2 separate regions of the Homo sapiens genome follow, and region 2 is linked to region 1. Evidence: fine-mapped expression QTL. Tissue or cell type: thyroid. Region 1 holds a variant in brackets; the other region holds the start of a gene. All regions are shown on one strand. Distances are from middle to middle.

Evidence for each region. PIP is the estimated chance that this variant, and not a neighbour inherited with it, causes the effect.
Region 2: it holds the start of CREBL2, and the variant in region 1 is fine-mapped to the expression of CREBL2 in thyroid (GTEx, PIP 0.98).

What each region holds. Positions count from the first base shown.
Region 1 is chr12:13,246,452-13,249,137 of GRCh38, forward strand. No RefSeq gene overlaps it. Among named protein-coding and RNA genes, the nearest start is that of EMP1, 51 kb to the left of the region's middle. The variant G/A (reference allele first, on the strand shown) is at 1,546.
Region 2 is chr12:12,610,383-12,613,068 of GRCh38, forward strand. It overlaps CREBL2 (cAMP responsive element binding protein like 2), which reads left to right and starts at 1,494. Exons shown (of 4, transcript NM_001310.4): 1 at 1,494-1,805. The coding sequence starts at 1,791. RefSeq lists enhancers at 863-1,614, 1,208-1,287, 1,338-1,387 and a silencer at 1,548-1,847.

The sequences.
Region 1 (2,686 bases):
CTCTAATGGACTTCCATTTAGACTTTCCCACCATAATAACCCTCACCCTACTGGTCAGGGAACCAACATGGGATTCTGCTAGCTGCTGAATATGTCTATTCCAATCATGCATCTGGAACAGGGGAAATGACCATAAGATGGGTCCGGAGACCCACTGAGCCTGCGGTGAGTTGGACCTGAGCTAAAACTCTATTGATCCCCTAACTTCCATAAGCTCCTACTCTGACTGGTGAACCACAGTGATGTTTTGGGTCTCCTGGAATCGATGTCAGTTCAGAGCCAATGTCCAGTAGTCCCCAAAATGTCTGATTATTTTCCTTTCCCAAGTGCACAGTTACCCTGGTAAAAGGCCGGAGGTCTCTTTGGGGAAAGATCAGAGAAAGATTAACAGTATATATTTTTGGTAGTATACCAGGCTCCTTCCTGGAGGGGCCCTGGCCCCCCCTTCATTAGAGGGGTTTTGGGTCTGTAAACTGGCTCAAGTCTGGGAACTGATTGAGAGGCCATGATTTTCTGTTTTTATGATTCAAGGTAGAATTTTGTTCACTTGACCTGGAAATGTTCTGCTTATATAAATCAAGTAAGAATGTAGTAGGCTTCCTATCTATTTCACTTCTAGGAACACCATGATTAACTAGCCAATGCCACAGATCTACGTAAGTCAGACTATTCTGATTGTTGCTTTGCCTCTGCTGTTTATTATGGTAAACACATCCACATTGCTTTAGTGATTGAGAGCTGCAGCTTGGCCCCAGCCACCCAGGATCCAATGATTCCCATTGCATTTATGTTTTCCAATTGAGTAACTGTGCCTCCCACTGCAAGGTCCATCCTCTGGAGAAGAACAATCACGGAGTTCTTCAGGCATGCTGGGGCTCTGCTCACAAATCTGTTTCTCACAGTATTGGTGAAAGGTATGTCTTCAGACCCTCCCTTTATAGGTGAGCAGATTTTAAGTGATAAATCCAGTACAGGCTTCCATTCTCTCTAGGCATTTTAATCCCTTCCTCTACAATAAACCAAGGGAGAGCAGGCATCTCCAGCTCCCTCACAGTGGGCCACCTTTTGATCCATGTTTCAGCCAACCAACCAAACAGATGGTTAGCACCTTTCCTAACTCCTGGAGCTGCAACATTAAGCACAGAATCTCTGCTTAGTGGTCCCATATGAATAAATTCAGCCTGATCCAACTTTGTGTTCCTTCCACCATTATCTCACACCCTTAATATCCATCTCACACATGTTTCCCAGATTTCTGCTTGTATAAATTAGAAAACTCAAGTAGTTCTTTTGGAATGTAGCATACCTCCTCATGAGTCACGTTTTCTACCTCACCTTTAGGGGCCTGCTGGGACTTGAGTCTGGTTATAGGGCTAGAAACAAAGAGGGGAGGTGAGGGTGGGTCCTGAGGAGAATCAGCCTTGTCTTGGAAACTGCCTTGGGACGCCATTACTGTTTCCTCGGGCAAGGAAGGGCTAACCCCTTCAGACACAGGTGGAAAGGCTGATATTGATACTGTTGTGGGTGGGAAGGCTGCTGCCTGGG[G/A]GTGAGGGTTGTAAGACCACCTCTGCTTGGCAAACAAGTCTCATCAGAATTTAGGGGCTCAATGTCCCCAGTTTCATCAGAGTCTTTCCACACATCCTCATCCCAATTTACAGAATCCCATTCTCTCCCAATCACTGCCCTTAATTTCACACCAGACACTCTGAGAGGCTGAGTCCAACTTTTGTTGTAAATCAGCCAATCAGATGATAAGGGCTTGTGTTTGATTTTCAGCAATTTCAGCCCTGCAGTTACAGAAGAGAAGATTCTGGCTCAGGGCACACTTAGAAGCTTGTAGGTTATTTATGCAGAACTGGAGCTGGAAATTTGAATCTCTGTTATATTTTTCCATCACTTTGACCAGTGACATTAGAAGCAGCCCATCAATGTTATTATTTTCCTTAGTTTTCCACAAATGTTTAAAGGTGTCATGTACAGAGTCATCAAGTTCCTTGCATTAATTTGGATTTAGATTTGGAGCATCAAATGCAGATATTTTGTGTATCTCTATAAACAGTTTAGGACATGAATTAGCAGTGCTCTCTGTACTGTTAGAAGTAGAGTTCCGAGCATTTTTAGGTGTGGTCACATTAAAGAGACAATTTTAGAAACCCCAAAACCAATTAGGGGAACTCATTTTTAAAATTCTGTTCCTCTAGAACCACTCCTGGTACCAAAATCTGTACTAATCAGAGTACGGCAGACAAATAATATCCTAAGCCTCCCAACTGACCTAACAGACCCCCTTTTGGCCAAGAGTACCCAGAGAAACCTTCAAAACTGAGTTCTGGCCAGGACAGGATGGGAGGTCGGACATGTCTCAGTATACTCCTTCTTTATTAACTTTTTTTTCACCTCACTCTGTCACCCAGGCTGGAGTCCAGTGTCATGATCATAGCTCACTGCAGTCTCAAACTCCTGAGCTCAAGCAATCTTTACTGCCTTAGCCTCCTGAGTAGCTGGGACTACAGGCATGCATCATCATGCCCAGCTAATTAACATTTTTTTTTTTATAGAGATGGGGTCTCCCTATGTTGCTCAGGCAGGTCTCAAACTCCTGGCCTCAAGCAATTCTCCTGCCTCAGCCTCCTAAACTGCTGTAATTATAGGTGTGAGCAACTGCACTGACCCTTATTAATCTTTA
Region 2 (2,686 bases), 640 kb before region 1:
TCAAAAAGAAACCCAGTACTCATTAACCGTCACTCTCCTTTCCAGGATCCCTCCATCCCTGCCATTCTTCAACCCTAGCCCTTGGCAACCACTAATGGATTTTTTGGTCTATTTAGATGTGCCTGTTCCAGACACTTCATTATAAATGGAATCATACAATATGTGGCCTATTGTGTCTGGCTTTTTTCACTTCACATAAAGTTTTCAAGGTTCAGACATATTGAAGTGTGTATATCCCTTCATTTTTTTTCATTGCTGAATAATATTTCTTTCCTTTTTTTTTGAGACAGAGTCTTGCTCTGTTGCCCAGGCTGGAGTGCCGTGATCACAGCTCACTTCAGCCTCCAACTCCAGGGCTCAAACGATCCTCCCACCTGGGCCTCCCGAGTGGCTAGGACTACAAGCACCACCACCACACCCAAGTAATTTTTAAATTTTTTGTAACACACCCAACTAATTTTTAATTTTTTTTGTAGAGACTGCATCTTACTATATGGGTCTTCTTCCTTCTTCTTTCTTCTTCCTTCTTCTCCTTCTTCTTCCTTCATCGTTCTTCTTCCTTCTTTCATTCTTCTTCTTCTTTTTTTTTTTTTTAAATACAGTGTCTGGCTCTGTCGCCCAGGCTGGAGTGCAGTGGTACAATCTTGGCTTATTGCAGCCTCTGCCTCCCAGGCCCAAGTGATCCTCTCATGTCAGCCTCCCCAGTAACTGGGATTACAGGCATGTGCCACCACACTCGACTAATTTTTGTATTTTTTTGTAGAGACAGGTTTTGCTATGTTGCCCAGGCTGGTCTCGAACTCTTGGGCTAAAGCAATCCTCCCGCCTCGGCCTCCCAACGTGCTGGGATTACAGGCGTGACCCACCACCCCTGGCCAGTATTTCTTAATTTGTATAGTCCACACTGGTTTATCCATTCATCCAGTAAAGGACATTTGCGTTGTTTCCACTTTTTGACTATTATGAATAATGCTGCTAGGAAAGAACATTTATATACAAGTTTTTGTGTAGTCACTCGTTTTAATTTCTCTTGGGTATGGGAGTGGCCAATATTCTGAAGAACTGCCAAATTTCTTCCCAAAGTAGCTGCACTATTTTACATACTTAGTTTTTGTTTTTCGTTTTTTTTTAAATAAAGAACCTTTAGGGTTTCCTCAGCGTCCCAGAGGAGGGCCTGCTTCCGGCACCCCGCCTTCAGGGCTGCCTCCGCAGAGCACCAAACTCCCGTCCCCGCCATTCCAGGCCCTGGCACTTAGGAGCCAAAACCTCAGGTCAGGCGCACTTTGGGCCTCCAGCCCAGCCCCGCCTCCTCAGCGCTAGCTAGTAGGCAAAAGGAAAACAGCTGCCCCTTAATGAGGCTATGTGGACATCGTAGTTTTTTTTCCAGTCAGTAGCGCAGAGACTGTGATAAGAAAAATCACAATTCCCAGAATGCCGCGGTGCTACGGCAGCCGAAGGGGCCATTCCGTGTGCAGCGCTCCCGCCCACCCTCCGGTCTCGGCGGCTCTCCAGAGCGTCTGTAAACACCCAGAGACTGTCATGGAGGGGGAGGAGGAGGCGGCGGCGGCGAAGGGAGGCGTTTGGGGCCGCCTCCAGGGTCCGCTCTGCCATTCCTGAACTGGTCCCTCGTCCCCGTGACTCTGGCATCAGGGAAGCGAACTGTTAGGCGAGAGGAGGAGGCAGCCAGAACCATATCCCCTTCTTCCTCGGGGCGGGGGCCGGGCCAGGCCGGCTGAGCCGGGGGAGGGCTCCGGGAGGGAGTGCCTGGCCAGGCCGGCCTGTCTGCCGCGATGGATGACAGTAAGGTAAGTCTTGTGGTTTGCACGCGCCGCCGCCTTCTTGTCGCTCAATGCTAGTCCCGCGGCTGAACCTCCGCTATGTAGTCCACGCCAACACCCAAGAGACACCTGCCTAAAACATCCCTGCGCCTCTCCAGTCCACTGCCCGATGGTACCCAGCCAGGAAATCAGGGAACACCGGGGCTGCGTTTTTCCAGGAAGGGCCCTCTCTGGAAATTTTTCACTCCCAGGGCGTTTGCTAGCTTTCCAGGTAGTGCAACCCCTAGTCCTTAACTTGCCTGTCGAGATAAGAAACTACTGTACTTTTTCTTCTTGCACTTTTTTGCTGCCTCCTCTCTCCAGTTTGGAGACTTTAGTGCACGCTGAACCAGCCTTATTCCCCTTGACGATTCCCCTTCTCTCAGGCTCCCTTACTCAATGCCCCATTCATATAATCAGTTCACTCCCCCTCTGAGCTATTTCCTGTGGTTGGTTGGAACACCGCTAAGCTCCTGTTGCTATTTGGCCAGTGTGGAGTTTAACCTCCACTAGAAAGCCTTCTCTAAAAAAATACTGATTTTCCTCTTGTTAACTTTAATAGCCCATCACCATCCAATTTCCCTGTCCAAATCACTTACTTTATGATTATAAAATAATAGATAATGTTCATTATTGGTTAATCCAAATAGTTTATCTATGTATAGCCTTTTTGTCTTTATTTATTAATTGAGACGGAGTTTCGCTCTTGTCGCCCAGGCTGGAGTGCAATGGCGCGATCTCGGCTCACCACAACCTCCGCCTCCCGGGTTCAAGCGATTCTCCTGCCTCAGCCTCCCGAGCAGCTGGGATTACAGGCATGCACCACCATGCCCGGCTAATTTTGTATTTTTGGTAGAGATGGGGTTTCT